Linked DNA regions of Homo sapiens: all the other regions are linked to region 2. The links come from fine-mapping of genetic effects on gene expression. A gene starts in region 2. Each other region holds a variant in brackets. All regions are shown on one strand. Distances are from middle to middle.

Evidence for each region. PIP is the estimated chance that this variant, and not a neighbour inherited with it, causes the effect.
Region 1: its variant is the best candidate, but not a certain one, in a credible set for the expression of FASTKD2 in whole blood (TOPMed, PIP 0.67).
Region 3: its variant is the best candidate, but not a certain one, in a credible set for the expression of FASTKD2 in whole blood (INTERVAL, PIP 0.70).

Annotation. Positions count from the first base shown.
Region 1 is chr2:206,788,389-206,794,430 of GRCh38, forward strand. FASTKD2 (FAST kinase domains 2) reads left to right here. Exons shown (of 12, transcript NM_001136193.2): 10 at 431-515; 11 at 2,184-2,298; 12 at 3,295-6,042. The coding sequence ends at 3,414. Among named protein-coding and RNA genes, the nearest start is that of MIR3130-1, 8.1 kb to the left of the region's middle. The variant A/G (reference allele first, on the strand shown) is at 3,299.
Region 2 is chr2:206,763,143-206,769,184 of GRCh38, forward strand. It overlaps FASTKD2 (FAST kinase domains 2), which reads left to right and starts at 2,464. Exons shown (of 12, transcript NM_001136193.2): 1 at 2,464-2,605; 2 at 3,502-4,328. The coding sequence starts at 3,552. It overlaps MDH1B (malate dehydrogenase 1B), which reads right to left and starts at 2,186. Exons shown (of 12, transcript NM_001039845.3): 1 at 2,108-2,186. The coding sequence starts at 2,129. RefSeq lists enhancers at 1,965-2,104, 2,355-2,734.
Region 3 is chr2:206,845,856-206,851,897 of GRCh38, forward strand. No RefSeq gene overlaps it. Among named protein-coding and RNA genes, the nearest start is that of MIR3130-1, 66 kb to the left of the region's middle. The variant A/G (reference allele first, on the strand shown) is at 2,792.

The sequences.
Region 1 (6,042 bases), 25 kb after region 2:
TAGCTACTGCTATTATCATTATTGGTAGTACTATTAAACATTTTGAAACAGAAAATCACTTGGGGCTGGTCACGGTGGCACACGCCTGTAATCCTAGCATGTGGAGAGGCCGAGGCAGGTGGATCACTGGAGCTCAGGAGTTCAAGACCAGCCTGACCAAATGGTAAAATCCTGTCTCTACCAAAAAAATACAAAACTTAGATGGGCGTGATGGCATGCCCCTGTAGTCCCAGCTACTCAACAGGGTGGGGTAAAAGGATTGCTTGAACCTGGGAAGTTGCTGCAGTGAGCTGAGATCACACTACTGCACTCCAGCCTGGATGACAGAGCGAGACCACATCTCAAAAAAAAAAAAAAAAAGGAAAAGAAAAGAAAAAGAAAGTCACTTGGAGGAATGTTTGAAAAATTAATATCAATTCTTTCCTTTCAGATTTTGAAATCAGAATGGACACTAACAGGAATCAAGTGCTACCACTTTCTGATGTGGATACAACTTCTGCTACAGATATTCAAAGGTTGCTTACATATATTTCATTTGCTGGGCTTTCTGAATTAAAATCCTAATTCTAAAAGACTTCATATTAAATAGCAGTAGTAAATCTAAGACTTGATGTTTGTATGGAGCCTGCAGCACACCAAGAGACTTGTCATCCATCAATGTACTCCTTAGAAAGTGTAAATGTGGACGTTATGGTTGAATACAATGGACTACAGTATTGGTCATTTAATGAGACAGACATTTTTTTAAAATTAGGTTTTGAAGCTATAGTTCAATAAAACAATATTAATATAATTGAAACTATCAATGCAGTGTAGACTTTGGACAAGATAATATAATAGTGATCATAAAGAATAAAGACTCGAGGCTTCTACAAAAATCAAATACCCAATAAATATTTTGCTCTACCACCAAGACTTTTCCAGAGGTAGAGAAACCGTAGTTTTTTAATTAAACTGTATTTGTATGGGTTAGAGCACATTGAAGCTAATCCTAAGTTGTTTCTTTGGCTCACACATTACAAATAGAGTGTCTCTGGGGAGAAATATGATGCTATACCATGAGAGAACATCCTGCCTCTTCAGTAGATGCATAAGATCATGCCATCATTGCACACACCCGTGGGTCAGTTACCCTTTATGTAAAAGCTCTGCTACATGGATCCTGACCCCAAGGAACTTGTATCTTCTGTTAACTCCACTGGACACACACACACACATAAATATGATAGAAACATACAAAAAAATCTGTAGGGATCCAAGCTCTTATCTGCCCATCCCTCTTCATTCACACACAGTTCTGTGACTTTCACCTCTTTCTGAATGCATCTAGCTTATTTCTTGGCCATCTTTTCAACCGCTGTCTTTCCTATTAGTGCTACCCATCTCCCCTCAGAAGAGGCTTTCTCTCTGACCTCATTCCAAGATCAGTTTTCTTTTTCGGGTACTCCGCTATTCTGGCATAATAAAATAACAGTTGTTCTCAGCATAAAGTCATGAGAAGTGAAGAATGTGAGCATTCCTTTAAAAACATAAAATTTGTCTTATAACAGCCAGAGTATAGGTGAAGGCAGTAAGGATATAAATGTCTTTTTTTTTTCTTTTTTTCTCCCAGTAAACTTAGTATTTCCAAAGTGCCAGGAACAATGAAAAAACAAATTACACCTTCCACATTTTCGTTATATTTACAGATTTTATTTTAACAGTCTTGCCTTTCTCTTGGTGTTTTCTTTCTTGTATTTAAACTCCTATTTCTGTTTTTTAAATGCTGCTTTCTCTGGGAGATGATATGTGTAAGAAGAGCATTTACTATTTGGTATTATTTACACCGTTACTACTACTGGTAGAATAAATAATTATACTCAGATCAGAAATCAGCACTACACAGAAAACCCTTAAAATTGGTGCTTTCATGTCTGAAAATTTTCCTCTTCAAAAATGTAGCCATCCTTAAAGGGAACTGAGAGGTAACTGTGTATAATGTTGTATATTTTTGATTTATAAAGTAGCCTTGTATAGTGGAATATCTGCAGAGGCCAAGTAAAAGAAGTGAAGGACTAAGACAGGAATATCAAGGATTGTGGTCGGTGGAGAGCTCAACTTGGAAATCTCCAGAGAACAAGAATGCAGCAAGACTAAATAGTAATATCAATAACTGTTCTTGTTTTGTTTATTTTTGTTTTCAGAGTAGCTGTGCTATGTGTTTCCAGATCTGCTTATTGTTTGGGTTCAAGCCACCCCAGAGGATTCCTTGCTATGAAAATGCGGCATTTGAATGCAATGGGTTTTCATGTGATCTTGGTGAGAAAAAAATGCAAATGAAATATTCTTTAATTACTGATGTACATTCTAACAGCTGCCAGGAATCTTGTGGTTGAGACTGGTTACTAGGACTAGAGGAATTGTCAGCATTATTGGAATGAGTGCTTTAGTTACTGTTTTCTTTGAAAAAGAACATTGCTAGTACACGATTTGGGTTCTGCTCAGCTGATTACTGTCATTACTAGAGCTTTTACAAATGTTGTTCTGGTCAGCTTTAATCCTTTTTTGCTAAGAAGAAGAATGCAAATAATATATTTTCATATTTAAGATACACAAAACCATATTTAATTTCCAGGTTATCTTGAACAAGGGAAGGAAAGATGTTAAAGCTTTGTTTTCATGGCCTGTGTGAAGCTGTTACAGGATGTTTGTTGCCAGAAAAGGCTGGATGGTTTTAAGAAGATGGGTCTTTCTCTTCCCTCTTATGCTTCAATTTTATTTTGTACCCCACAGCTTCTCTTGAACAGCCTCTTCTGATGTTTCTAGGTAGTAGGAACCTTACAAATACATTTATATATATGTTGCTGTTGGAATCTATCTAAATGCCACTCATTTGGTCCTGCGCATAATGTAAGATGTAAACATTCCAAGTCTTCTATTATTATACTTTAGTATTGGAAATGGATTACGTGTGGACTATTGAGATTAAGATGACTCCTTTCTCTTAGTGGGCTACTATTTAAGACTTTGTTTTTTATATTGCTGATTATATATATTCTAAGGAAGATTTTCTCAAGAAAGCAGTTTTTGCACCATTTAGAGGACCTTTAAAATTTGTATAATTTTCACAGTTAAAGCTTTCTTAAACCCTAGCATGTAGTCTTATTATGCCTTTAAAATATGAGTAGTTATAAGGTCACATTTGCTTTCAAAAAGCTATTGTCCTCATGTTACTTTACTATGTTTGGATCTCTAAACTAGCTCTTTTGTTAGTATCGTCTCACAAACTGATTATTTTCCTCTTTCTTTGGTAAGGTCA[A/G]TAACTGGGAGATGGACAAACTAGAGATGGAAGATGCAGTCACATTTTTGAAGACTAAAATCTATTCAGTAGAAGCTCTTCCTGTTGCTGCTGTAAATGTGCAAAGCACACAATAAAGTGAAAATCAACCTTTTCATATTAGGAGACATGCATTTGTAAAAATTAATAAAGATGACAAGTCAGTTGTCAATGGAATTGAGCTATCTGCTAAGACAAAAAATGTTACCTCAGTTCACTATTAAAATTAATTTTAGGAGTGGAAGAAATGTTGTTACTGCCATTTAAAAATATGCTGAGAAAATTCCAGAAGGGTTATTTTTCCAACCACACCTATTCCCTCTAGTGCCCAGATATTTGATTTGTGAGCTGTACGTTTCACCTTTTCATCTTTGATCTACTAAAAACTGGTTTCTTAGTTGTGAGGTGTCACAGGCAGGTTGATGTGGGTAGTAGTCCTTGTCTTTGGAATCTGAATATTTATACTCCTGCTCTAAGCTGTTCTAAGACTTGGGGTTATGCCTTTAAATCATTTTCAAGCATTGGCCAAATAATAATTGGACAAAGTTCTAAAGTTGTCAAGTGTGTAAGAATTAGTGAGGTAGCTGTTGAAAATGAGTGAGGATGGTATTTGTATTTGTAATAAGCACTGCAGGTAGAGATATTTCATGGGTTATAATAAGAGAAACACAGATGAGATGTAGATGGTAAGGAGTCTTACTGTTGTTGGGGTCCTTCCTTTCTCTTTCTTTTTTCCCCCTTACCCCTCCCACAATTTCATGAAGTCTTTTAAATTAAATATATAGCTGAATTGTGTTGTGAATCAGACCTGAGGACTATTTTTTCGATTATGTGTGTTCATTCTTTGTTCAAATATTTGTCCAAATTCAACTATTTTGTTCAATATGCCTGTCTACCTAGTATTTGGCTCGCTGGGGATATAGTGATGAATAGGCATGGTCTCTTGTGGAACTTACAGCATGGGTTCCATGCAAGTTGGTGTTATTCTGCCCCCAAGCACACAGACATGCAATTACTAGACATCTTAGTATGTGCCGGGCACTGCTAAGTATTCATTTGTGTGCTGCCTTTTCATGATCTGAACCCTTTGAGGTGTAGCTGCTATTATGATTCTCTCTGTGTCTTCACTTCCTCATCTCTAAAATCAGGATAGGTATTTGCCCAAGGCTACACAGAGTAGGGGAGGGCTGGAGTTTGAATGTGAGCTAACATAGGCTTATAAGAAAATACAAAAACTGGGCTGGGCACGGTGGCTCGTGCTTGTCATCCCAGCACTTGGGAGGCCGAGGTGGGCTGATCATGAGGTCAGGAGGTCAAGACAATCCTGGCCAACACGGTGAAACCCCATCTCTACTAAAATACAAAAAATTAGCCGGGCATGGTGGTGCATGCCTATAATCCCAGCTACTGGGGAGGCTGAGGCAGGGGAATCGCTTGAACCCGGGAGGTGGAGATTGCAGTGAGCCAAGATGGTCCTGCTGCACTCCAGCCTGACCACAGAGCGAGACTCTGTCTCAAAAAAAAAAAAAAAAAAAAAAAAAAAAAAATACAAAAACTATAGCAATATGACAACAGCTGCCAGGTTGTATCAATTTATCCAGCTTGCATTTAGAAAAGGTTAGAGCTGAAAGGAAATTTAGTGATTATTTAATTGTTACTTCCCTCATTTTATGGACGAGGAAGATAAGGCTCAAAGAATTTTCCTTTCCTGAAGTCTCAGCTATGCCATTGGTTCCACATCATTTCATCCTCACCTGCTCTTCAGCTTGTGTCCCAGGAGATCAGGCTTCTGGTTCCAGATTGGACAACCTCTAGTTTTGTATACTTGGCCAAGTGATTTAACCTTATAAGCTTCAGAACAAGATGCAGATATTCTGTTATTAAAGGAACTAAGGTTTTGTCTTTAAATGTTGAGTGTGCATCAGTTTTGAGTGTCTAATTATGACTCCTCTTCAAAGGATTTGACAAATTTGTGAATATTTATGACCACCTTTTAGGGTAGTAATTTTCAGTTTGTACTAGTTAACCTGGCAGATAAAAAGGCATCCCTCTTTTACTAGCATTCTAGTGTTAGCATTCTTCATTGCTTTGTGTCAATGAAAGAAAAATGGGCAAAGAGCTGATGAACATGAAAAAAGTTCAGTCTACTTGTAAAGACATGCACATTGAAACAGAAGAGATGGTTTTGCCTTTCAAATTAGCAGTTTTTTTTCTTTTAAGAATTACAGTGCTGATGAAGGTATAATGAGGCAAGCACTTGCATAAGCTGTTGGTAGACTGTAAATTAATACCTTTCTGGAATGTACTTTGTGGGGTTTTCTTCTCCCATAATTTAAAAAATAGCTTTATTATAGTATAATTGACATACAGTAAACTGCATATATTTAAAGTGTACCGTTAGGTCAGTTTTGACGTACATACACACACACACACATCTGTGAAACCACAATCAAGATAATGAATATATCTATCACCTCTAAAAGGTTCCTGTCTTTGCTTTTTTCTCTGTCCCCTAAACAACCACTGATCTATGGCACACATAGAAAAAAATTAGGAAATATATTAAATGCTCATTTTGTGTGAGATATCCAAATATTTTTTTCAGAATCCCTAATGAAAAGGTTGATCTTGCTCTAGATACAAGATATAAAATTGTATTCTTGAAATAGCTACATGCAATTCTTTTTTATTATTTTTTAATTTTAATTTTTAGATTTTTAAAGATG
Region 2 (6,042 bases):
CCCTACTAAATGTGCTTAGTCGCTTATATTTATTATGTCCATCTCCCTAATTATCTAAGAGTAGTAAGAGTATCCAGAGTATTAAACCTACTCATCCGCTTTTTTTTTTTTTTCAGTGACTCCTAATCTCTGCAATTATTCAAACCTCTGCTTGGGAACAATGTTTAACTCCTTTTTCTCCCTTATCTGCCCTCCTCCAGTCAATTAGACATCCAGTTCTATAGATTCTGCCTCCCTAATATCTCTCCAATCCATTCACTTCTCTCCATCTCCATTGTTTGCCACTCTAGGCCAGGTCACAATCAACTCCCTCCTGGACTATAGCACTAGTCTCCTAACTGGTTTCTTGGTATCCAGTCTTTTTGTCCCACACTATAGCCGTAACATTCAGATAAAATTCAGATTTGATTAGGCCCTCCTCCCCTTCTAAAAACCTTTCATGTACTCTGGATAAAGTCTAAACTACTGAATGTGGCTCAAAAGAATCTACATTATCTAACTCTAGCCTCACCTTATGAAATTCTCTTCCTTGTACTATTTGCTTCAGTCCTAATAAACTTATTTCAATTTTATACTTATTTTATATTCTCAATTGTCACCAAACTAGTTCTCCTTGCTCTAACCCCACTCCCAGTTACCCATGCCTAAATTGCTCCCCTCCTTTCTACCTCTTCTCTGTTAGGTAATTCATTATCATCTTTCAGGTATCTGCTTAAAATCTCTCCCTCTGGGAAACCCTTACCTGATTAAGTAAGGTCCCTGCTATCGTTCCTATAGAACCCTGCCCTGTCAGTGTCATACATGCAACATTCTCTGTGTGTTTTCCACTGACTTCCCACCATGTGGTTAGTCAGTGTTCAAAAATATTCTTCTGGGCCAGGTGTGGTGGTGCATGCCTGTAATCTTGGCACTTTGGGAGGTCAAGGTGGGCAAATCACTTGAGCGTAGGAGTTCAAGACCAGCGTGGGCAACATGACAAAACCCCATCTCTACAAAAATACAAAAATTAGCTGGGCATGCTGGTGTATGCCTGTAGTCCCAGCTACTTGGGAGGCTGAGGTGGGAGGATCGCTTGAGCCCAGGAGGTCAAAGCTGCTGTGAGCCACGATTGCACCACTGCAATCCAGCCTGGGTGACAAAGTGAGAGCCTGTCTCAAAAAAAAAAAAAAATCTCCTGTGGATGGTAGATGTCAATTGTGTTCAATGCATCAAAGAGATCAAATAAGTCAAAGACTAAACAGCTTCTATAAAAGTCAGTGGTGACTTTGGTGACAGCAGTTTCTGTCAGGAAGCAGAAGTAGAAGCCTTCTTCCAAGACTGATTGGAAGGCAGAACTGGAGATGGAAGAGCAGTCTACTCTTTTAAGAAACTTTACGAGGAGAGGAGGTAGGTACCATGGATTGTTGTAATAAAAGCCTTCTCAGTTGAGTCCTTGCTGTCAACCAGCACTTTCAATCATTCTCTCCGTTGCTGCCAAGACAGGCTTCCTAAAATGCAAACTCATTAAGACTACTCTCCTGCTTAAAATTTTTCTATAATTCCTCATTGCTTTCAGGATACAGTTCAAACACCTTTGCTTGACCTACATGAAATGCAAGGACCTGGCTCCTGCTCCTGTTGTAGCCCCAGGTCCTGTCACGCCCCACATATCCAGATCTTCTGTTAGGCCAGGAAGCTTCCTGCCTCTCTGCTTTTATTTGGAATAGCCTCCTCAGCTCACACCTTCACAACTCAGCTCCTGTAATACCTTCCCCAGCCAGTTCCTTGTGTCCACCTCTCCCTCATCCCCCAAACCCAGATTAGGAGTCTACGCTCCCAGAGGCCTGTGCAGGTCTCCTTCATCGCGTTAATCACACCGTATCAAAAGTACATGTTCTGTGCCCCATGAGACTGAAAGCTCCTCTAAGGCAGGGATATGTTTCCCTCCATTGCATCCCCAGTGTCCCACAATGCTTGGCGCACCGTCACGGTCCAGTAAAAAACTTTGAATAAATCTATAGCAAAGCATGGAGCGGTCCGTATAGAGGCTGCCAAGCCGAGCGGCCATGGGAGGTGAGCTGTTGTCGGCGTTTTGAGCAATCTGCGGGCGGACGCGGGGATCACTCACCCGCGATGACGAATTTGGCCATGGTCGAGAGAGACTCAGAGGCAGGGACCGCGGCTTCGCGGTTTCCTGGCAACCACGCAGCCAAGGGCAAGGCGCAGGCGCACTACAAAGTCTGGCGCCCAGCAGAGGTTAGGTGTTTAAAGTTAGGACCTGAATGGGTTACGTTGCGATACACGATCAAACATCGCCCTTATAAGCTCTGTGGTATCCCCGAGCCCCACTCCTGTATGCAGGGAAATTAGTCATTCTCCTTGGTAAACTTTCTTCAAGTAAGTCCTTCAGCTACAGCCGCGAACATATGCTTTTTGACCTTTGAGGGAATCCGTAAGATCTCGTGAGAAGCGCAGCTTCTCGGGGAAGCTGTCATGGCTGCTCCTGTACGTAGTCACGGTCTTGTGCTCTAAGGTGAGTGGAGGACGAGCTTGGGCTTAGCGGCAGCCCGTATCACATCCTAGACTTTTTACTTCGAGGAGAAGAGTCTCACGAGTTGTCCTGGAAGTAAGTTTAAAGGAGGTGGGTTAATGCTGGGCGGCCCAGCTGCGGAAGGACAGGCTCTTGAAGTTGGTTCTGGGGTCTGGTGAGGCTGGCTGGTTGTATAAGATCTTCCTCTTAAGCGCAGGCCACGTGCAGACATCGCTTTCGTTTTCTGCTTCTTCCACTGAGCCGTTCTACCTGCCCAGGTCCCTATTCTTGATGGTCTGGGTTCGGCCGTTGCTAAATCGTCATGTTGAAAATGATCTATCAGCCGGGCGCGGTGACTCACGCCTTGGGAGGCCGAGGCGGGTGGATTACCTGAGGTCAGGAGTTCAGGACCAGCCTGGCCAACATGGTGAAACTCCGTCTTTACAAAAAATACAAAAATTAGCCGGGCGTGGTGGCATACGCCTGTAATCCCAGCTACTTGGGAGGCTGAGACAGGAGAATTGCTTGAACCTGGGAGGTGGAGGTTGCAGTGAGCCAAGATCGCGCCACTGCACTCTAGCCTGGGGGACATAGCAAGACTTTGTCTCAAAAAAAAAAAAAAAAAAAAAAAAAACAGAGAAGAGAAAAGAAAATGATCTATCAATGCTAATCCCCTAATTTTCACCGAGGACATTTCCATAACAATGCCAACAAAAGTCTCTCCTACAGAGAAAGCTTTATGGAACGCTTTTGCACCAGAAAAATCTCATTAATACAATGACTACTTCCAAAGTGACCTGGCTTCTTTGAAACTGGACACATTGTGGTAGATTGGAGGGAGCCCACATTGGTAAAAAAAACTTTTACTGTTTTATGTAAATGTTTAATGGCTCCATAGGTTCCCCATTTTCTCTTCTGTTAAATGCATTTCATTTCTTTAAGTAAAAGTTTTGTTTTAATTTTTATTCTTTTCATTACTTCTTCCCCTACAGGAAAACGACAGCACGTGTTCTTTTTCACTAGTAGAAGTGACGTTGGTTTCATGTTGACAACTTTGAAGCCATTTGGAAGTGTTTCAGTGGAGAGCAAAATGAATAACAAAGCGGGCTCCTTTTTCTGGAACCTTAGACAATTCAGTACATTAGTTTCAACAAGCAGAACTATGAGGCTATGTTGTTTGGGACTTTGCAAACCAAAAATAGTTCATTCAAACTGGAACATTTTAAATAACTTTCATAACAGAATGCAATCAACTGATATCATTAGATATCTCTTTCAGGATGCATTCATTTTTAAATCAGATGTTGGCTTTCAAACAAAGGGCATAAGCACTCTAACAGCCCTTAGAATTGAAAGACTACTTTATGCTAAAAGACTGTTTTTTGACTCAAAGCAGTCTCTTGTCCCTGTTGATAAATCTGATGATGAATTGAAGAAAGTAAACCTTAATCATGAAGTCTCCAATGAAGATGTTCTTACCAAGGAAACAAAACCAAACCGTATCAGCAGTAGAAAACTGTCTGAGGAATGTAATTCCCTGAGTGATGTGTTAGATGCATTTTCAAAAGCGCCCACATTTCCTAGTAGCAACTATTTCACAGCAATGTGGACAATTGCCAAAAGACTGTCTGATGACCAGAAGCGCTTTGAAAAACGACTGATGTTTAGCCACCCTGCATTTAATCAGCTCTGTGAACATATGATGAGAGAAGCCAAGATCATGCAGTATAAGTACCTACTGTTCAGTCTTCACGCCATAGTGAAGCTTGGAATCCCTCAGAACACTATTTTGGTGCAGACTTTGCTGAGGGTGACCCAGGTAAAATAAAAAGGAGATTTAAACATGCATTTACTTGATTTAGAATATTTTGAAAGAATGAAGGGATATAGATATGTAGCCTTCTTAAAAGAGACTATCAAATGGAATGGTAGTTTCCTTTATATTTATTTCTGCATATATATTATATGATTTAGAGGCCTTAAGTTAGCTATTTTCTTCCTTTTGCTATGGAAATTTATGAAAGCCTTCCACATTTACCATCCCCAGGGTTGAGTAGTGGTGAAGAAGCTAAAGTGAGGAGAGATGCAAGATATACAAAGAAAGCCTGGGTAGTTGAAGAAGGAGAGAAGGGAAGGGGAAGGAAGAGAATTTAGTCCATGGTAGAATTGGAATTCAGGCCCAGTAGATGATACCTAAACTGATGAGCAGAATGATAGTGAAGGGGATGGTGTTTCAAGTAGAGAGGATTGCATGCCCTACTGTTCCCAGAGGAAAAGTTTGGCAAATTTGAAGAGCTGAAAGTAGTTTGGTGTAGCTGAAGCACAGAATGATGGAGTTGTATGTTTGAGTGGGTGGGAACAAGTTTTGTACATGGCGATCAAAGGAGAGGAGTGAGGGGCAAGAGGCTTAGGGGCAGAACAAGAGGCCAGAAAAATAGGAACCAAATCATAAAGAGCCTCTTACGGCTAGCTAAGGAGTATGCATTTATCCTGTAGGCAATGGGAATCCGTTGAAGAATTTTAAGCAATGGGTTGACGTGCTCAAATTTGTATTTTAGATCACTGAATGAGTGGAAGATGTATTGGAAGAAGGTTAAAATTGGATGGAGGGAGCCATTTTTAGTCTAAAGCAAGAATGTCAGTGTCCTGTTTAATGTCACTGAAATGGTGCCAAATGTAAGGAAGGAAGGATTAGCTTGTTAATCATTTATGTTTTAAGAGTGTACACTTCTGACGTATAAACTCAGTGATAATGAAGTAATTTCTTAGCCAGGTGTGGTGGCTCACACCTGTAATCCCAGCACTTTGGGAGGCCAAGGCAGGAGGATCTCTTGAGCCCAGGAGTTTGCGACCAGCCTGGGCAACAAAGGGAGACTCCATCTCTACAAAAAATACAAAAATTAGCTGGGTGTGATGTACTTGCCTGTGGTCCCAGCTACTTGGGAGGCTGAGGTGGGAATATCACTTGAGCCTGGGAGGTCGAAGCTGCCGTGAGCCATGATCGTGCCACTGCACTCCAGCCTGGGTGACAGAGCCAGACCCTGTCTGAAAATAATAATAATAATTTTTTAAAAGACAGGAATTCCTTGGGGATAATCTGGCATATATCCTGTCTTGCTATAGAATTCAATAATTGGGTTCATAGCTATGGGAAAGTTTTTAACTTTTTACATTACTGTGATTTCCATATGTCCTTAAGGAATAACTAATTTTTATTTAGTGTATGTGTGTGTATTTGTTTAAACCACAGAATATCCCTGTTTATTTGTAGGCTGTGTATTAGTTCCTATGTAGTTATTTAAAAGTGACTAATAAATCACCTTACCTGGTCAGTGATGCTCTTACTAGATTTTGGACAGATATTTGCATCGGGATGACATCTGTGTTGGTGAGGTATGAGTAGTAGATTTTTGTAGTCAAAACATCTGTATGGATGATGGTGTCTCACTGACCTGTTGGAATAATGTAAAGACATTTTAGAGGTGAAAGGACAGTGTGCCATCAATGAATTTGCCCTTCAAACACATAGACAA
Region 3 (6,042 bases), 83 kb after region 2:
GAGCAGGACTCTACTTAATGAATGTGCTAATTGTTTTCCTTGCTGCAAATGTTAGTGTTGCTTTTAACCACAATATACAGAAGATTAGGAGCCAATTCATTATATGTTATTTAATGAGTTATATTTATACTATATAATGGCATTGTTAAATTCACACAGTACCCTGCTTAATATTCAAAGCACTTTACTAGAGCACACTATTTTAAGCTCAAAGCTGTCCTTTGTCATAGGGAGGCAGGAAGAGTATGCCTATTTTATTTAGCATGGTGGTTATGAACTCAGCCTCTGAATTCATGCTGCCTGGATTTAAGTCCTGGCTCCTACTTACCAACTGTGTGACCTAAGAAATGTTACTGACCTTTCTGTGCCTCAGTTGTCTCACTCATAAAGCAGGGTGAGTAGTAGTATCTACATCATGGGGTGTTATAGAATTTGGTGAGTTAATGCTTGTAAAGGGTTTGATGCAGTGCTGGGCATGCTGCTAGTCTCCAAAGTATGTTACATGATTCTCAGTTACACTCCTTCCCTCATGATCCATTCTCCACGCAGCACTCAAAGTGAACTTTCAAAACTGAGAATCCCTTCATGCCACCTGGCTGCTTAAAATACTCTGGGGACTGCCCATGGCAAGGGATTGAAATCCAAACCATTCACCATGGCCAGGCCTGTTCTCTAGACTGTGCCTAGCTCTGTGCACTCATCTTTCTCTCCTCACCCGTGCCTGGCTCCTGTGCTCTAAGCATGCTGCTCTCCTTTTCGTTTTTCAAACACACCAAACTCTTTTCTGCTTCAAGGACATTGCCTGAACCCCCTTCCCCCAGATCCTCTGGCACCTCTGATTCATGTGCCAACTCAAGGCAGATTCAGGAATGAAGGCTGCCTTCCCTGACTACCCAATCCCAGTTGCACCTGGCTGCTGCCACAGCCCTGTTGAATGAATAGATGAATGAAATTTTGTGAACCTTCAGGCTCATGGCACACTATCATCACTAGTCCTTGCTTTATTCTATTTTCTTTATAGCTCTTATCCCTTAAACAATGCATAAATGTACACACAGGTTATTTATTTATCTGAATAAATCTGCAGTGATGCATAAGTCCCTTAGAACTCAGAATCTCCTTGGCTGATACTGTCATTCTTTCCATATGCTCTCTTGGCTGGTGGTTCTCCAAGTTCAGTGTGTGCTGGGCCTATCTCCAGAGTTTCTGATTTGGTAGGCCAGGGCAGATCTCTTTGGGAAAGTGACATTCAAGGATGAGGCTTAAAGGATGAGAAGAAGTCCAATCACATGGGAGCTGGAGGATGAGAGTTCTAGGCGGTAGGAACAGCAAGTGCCAATAAGCTGAGCTGAGAAAAGAGCTATAGTGTTTGAGTAACAGAAGGAAGGTGAGTATGGCTAAAGCTTGGAGGGAGAGTGGGAAAGAATTCCAGGCTGACCTTGAACAGGAGGCAGGGGTCTGATCAGGCAGTGCCTATTGGCCCTGTGGGGGAGGGTAGTTTGTGTTCAGAGTACAGTGAGAAAGCTTTGCACAGGGGAGAAACATGATCCAATTCACATTGTTTTAAAGGTTCACTCGGGATGCTGTGTGGACAAAGCCTTGTAAAGGGGCAAAAGTTCAGTAATGAGATTCATTCTACTCCTTCCTTTGAAGCAGTCCTCTGGTCTACACTGACTTCCCACAGAGCCCACTGTGTGTTTTGGGCTCTAGAGCTGCTAGAGAACTCCTTTAAAGTAGGTGGTTGCCATTGTAGCAAACAAATGAATATAGTGTCTGCCTCAATTCCCAACTTGGAGGAAAAGCTTCAAGCTCACAGTCTCTGTCTAGGGAGCAGCCCATGTCTTTTTCTGTGTAGGGGAACTCTGTATTCTGCCTCACCTATCCTGTTGCTCTGGCCCAGGTGTTGGACCAGGAGAGACACCAGGGTGGCCAGAATGCAGGCTGGCCTGCAGTTAGCGAGGTGGCCTGGCACAGGGCTCTGCCTAGCAAGGTTAATGATAGTGAACAAACCACTCCCATCAGACACTGTCTTTTGCAGCAGCAGCAGTAGCAGATGGTAGCAGGACTCGAGGCTTATGTGCAGAGAAACATCATGAGGCTGCAGAAGCCATGAGAGCGAGGTTATGAATTAGAGTCCGAAGTGAGCAGAACTTATTGGCAAACCTAAAAGGCAGTGGAAAAATACCTAGAGCAAAATGGGTTGCTTGGTGATGGCGGAAGAGGCAGAGGCCAAGGCAAAGCAACACTAGGTCCCCAACCTGGTAGAGTCCATTAACTTCTGCTGCTGGGAAGTAGAATGAATGGAAGCAAAGAGGGCCGGGTTTCCAGAGGGGTGCCAAGTCCTCAAGGTAATCCGTTTCAAGCCTGCCTCTTGTGGGCTTCTCTGCCTTGATGACCTCCCTTCTATACACGTCCTGAAATACCTTCCTACCCACACTCATTACACAGAGTGCCCCAAACCCCTTGCCAAAATGAACCTACACCCACACCCCACCTAGGAATGGAAATTCCTCCTTGCTTACTGGAATTCCTTTACAGCCCTTGGATGTACAACTTGTTGTAATTTAACACTGTTCTATCATTGTTTAGGCCAGAATAATGTCTTCATTTTTAGTTGAAACTTTAGTATAAATTTGCCTTCACAGAAAGAAATGAACACCTGTTGCACCAAAATATGAGAAAGTAGCCATCTGACTGTAAATTACTATAGAATAGCAAAATCTCCCCTAAAATATAATTTTTAATTCATTGAGCTTATGATTTATACATTTTTTGGTATGTAAAATTCTAA[A/G]AATGAAATATAAAATATGGTAACATTTTCTCAGAGGTGCAAAAGAGGTGCACCACTTACCTGTTTAAAACCACTTATTAGGCTGGGTACAGTGGCTCATGCCTGTAATCCCAACACTTTAGGAGACCAAGGCGGGAGGATCATATGAAACTACGAGTTTGAGACCAGCCTGAGCAACAAAGCGAGACCCTATCTCTACAAACAAATTTAAAAAACTCATTTATTAGTAATTCATAACCTTTAGGGAATAATCTCAGATCCTTAGAAGGAAATTGGAGGCCCATCTCTTCAGCCTCCTCTACCAACCCATTTTTCTGCTTTGTTTTCCAAAATGCAGAGGTCCTGCTCCATCTGTATGGAACCACCTGTAATGTACTGACCAGGTGTGCTCTCTCATGCCTTGTACTGTTATAGCATGTCTGGTCTGGAAGCCTCTCTGCAACTTCAGTCCCCACTAGTTTGAGTGACTCCCCTCCTTGATCACACTTGGAGCTGACTTCTTCCATTACATTGTGATGTGTTCCACTGGGCGTTTCTGTTTACTTGTACATTCAGGGCTAGGATCTCAGCCTCCAGAAGACAGGGACTGTGCCTTTATCTTTCTCCAGGGACTAGCTCTGTGCCAGGGCATGTATAGCGTGTGGCCCAAAATAAAGGTTTATGGAATGAAGGAATGAAGCTGCAAAGTCTCATGCCATGGTCTCAGAGGTATGGCTTGGGGTTGCCCCAGGAAGACAGATTTGGTACTCTCAATATCTTTATCACAGAATATGTATACAGTCCTTCTTCACACATGATTCCTAAATAATGTCATGCATGGGTGGCATGCTTCATGAAGTTTCAGGGTTTTAAATACATCTCCCTTCCCCCAGGTCCCACCTAGAAAGGTCAAGTGTGTTGTATAAACCCTTCCTCTGTATGTGGCCTAGATGAGGAGATCAAACACCTCACCTGTCCCAGGAGCAGAATGTTTTCTGGGTCTCACTGGAGTCTGGCTTTGATTACTTTTTAATCATTGGCTTCAGTCTGTGGGAACTAAACCTACATGCCACCTCCTCAGAGGCATTTTGTCTCTCTGGACAACTTGTTCATTCCTTTATAGCAGCGGTCCTCAACCTTTTTGGCACCAGGGACCAGTTTCATGGAAGACAATTTTTCCATGGATGAGGGAGTGGGGGGGTTGGTTTTGGGATGAAACTGTTCCACCTTAGATCATCAGGCATTAGATTCTCATATGGAGCGTGCAGCCTAGCTCCCTCACATGTGCAGTTCACAGTAGGGTTTGTGCTCCTATGAGAATCTAATGCTGCTGCTGACCTGGCAGGAGGTGGAGCTCAGGTGGTAATGCTTGCCCCTGCTGCTCACCTCCTGCTATGTGGCCCAGTTTCCAACAGGCCACAGACTGGTACCAGTCCACAGCCTAGGGGTTGGGGACCCCTGCTTTGTAGCACTCAGTACAATTTTACTGATATATTTATTTCTTTACCCTCTCTCTCAGAGTTGGGCATGAGCTCTGCAAGGGTGGGGATGGTGCCTGTTCTATTCATTGCTCACCACACAGTGTGGCTTCAAAGGTACCTGATGAGCATCTGCTGGGTTATGTTTGGGTTGAAATACCCTCCAAGTGTCATACTACTAACTGGCATGCCCAACTTTGAAAAATATCACATAATTTCTCTCTCTCAAAAAAAAAAAAAAAAAAAAAAAAACCCTGAAGGGTGTGAATTGCTATTACTGTTTTACCTGTAAGGTAATAGCCCAAAGAGAGGTTGACTTGATGAAAATCACAGTCAATGAGAGAAATAAAGACTTGGAACCAGATTTTCTGATAGAAAGCCAGTTTTTTGACTTCTACAATTATCTTTAGAGAAAATTTCAGGAGTGCTAAACTATGCAATGCTATTCCAAAGGTCACCTGGTGGAAATTCTATTGTCCCTCTGCCAGGTGCATACTAGGGAAGAGAAAGAAAATCAACAGGATGATAATGAAATGATGGTAGAAATGATCCAGCCTATTGAACATGCTGCTTGGCTTTCCCTTACAGTTGTTATAGTAACTTATTATAAAACAATAAGACACAAATCTTTAATTCACACCAAAAAATAAACTCCCTGTAATCTCATATGTGTGCCATCACATCTTTAGGAAGCTTTTTGTTAGTTGAGTTGATAAGCATCGACATTGAAGTCTTATCAGTCCAACAAGAGTGAAGAGAATTCAAATGTGAAGTTCAATCCGGTCAAGAATTTGTTATTGGGCAGGAACCAATAAAAATGAGGCTCTGAGTTCATTATTCTAGTTTTTAGAATGCTCTGTCAGAATAAATAGTAGAAAATATTTTATTTTCAAAACATAATGTTTTATACATATTAGTGTAAAGCACTATGACTCAGATATTCTAGTTACCATATCTAAACATTATGGCAAAAATTGCTATAAGAACACATGGAGATAGTACAAGCTTCTATGAATTATGATGAGCAAATGGCATTGATTCATGTCTCTGTGAATTAAAAGCTTAGGAAATGTCTATAGACCTTCCCCTTTGATGTATTGTCTGCTAATCTTTATAAACAATTTCCTGGATATTCTCATGATAAATTTAGATGTTTTAATACAATGTTTCTTAAATGATTTTGATTACAATTCACAGTGAAAACTACATTGGAACCCAAGGTACACATACATATGTATATATAACTGGAAATGTGTCTTACAACAATACCTTTGCTGTGTACCATGTATTCTGGTATTTTTTATTTTATTCTTTCCTATTTCATTAGTTAAAACAAATTCTGGTCATTATCCAGTAAGCTGACTTCATGTCCCTTTCACGGATTGTGCCCATAAGCTTAAAAACTCTCTTAGAGGGTGTTCTCGGCATATATTGCTTTGCAACAAACAACTGCTACTTTGTGGCTTAAAACAAAAACAGTTTTTATTACATTTCAACATTTTATTGGTCAGGAATTTGGGCAGTGTTTGGCTGGGTGATTCTTATGTTCCATATGGCATTAATGGGTTCACTTGGCAGCATGTGGCTGAAGAATGACTGGTTTTAAGGGCCCCAGATGGCTTCACTCATATGTTGTTGGAGATGGCTAGAAAACTTGGCTCAAGTGGGACTGCCAATAGAAGGGCCTGCATGTGCCCACTCTGGCTTAGAGAACTCTAAGTAGTTGAATTACATGATGGCCCAAGAATCCACCAAACAAGATGGAAGCTCTATGACCTTTTATGACCTAGCCTT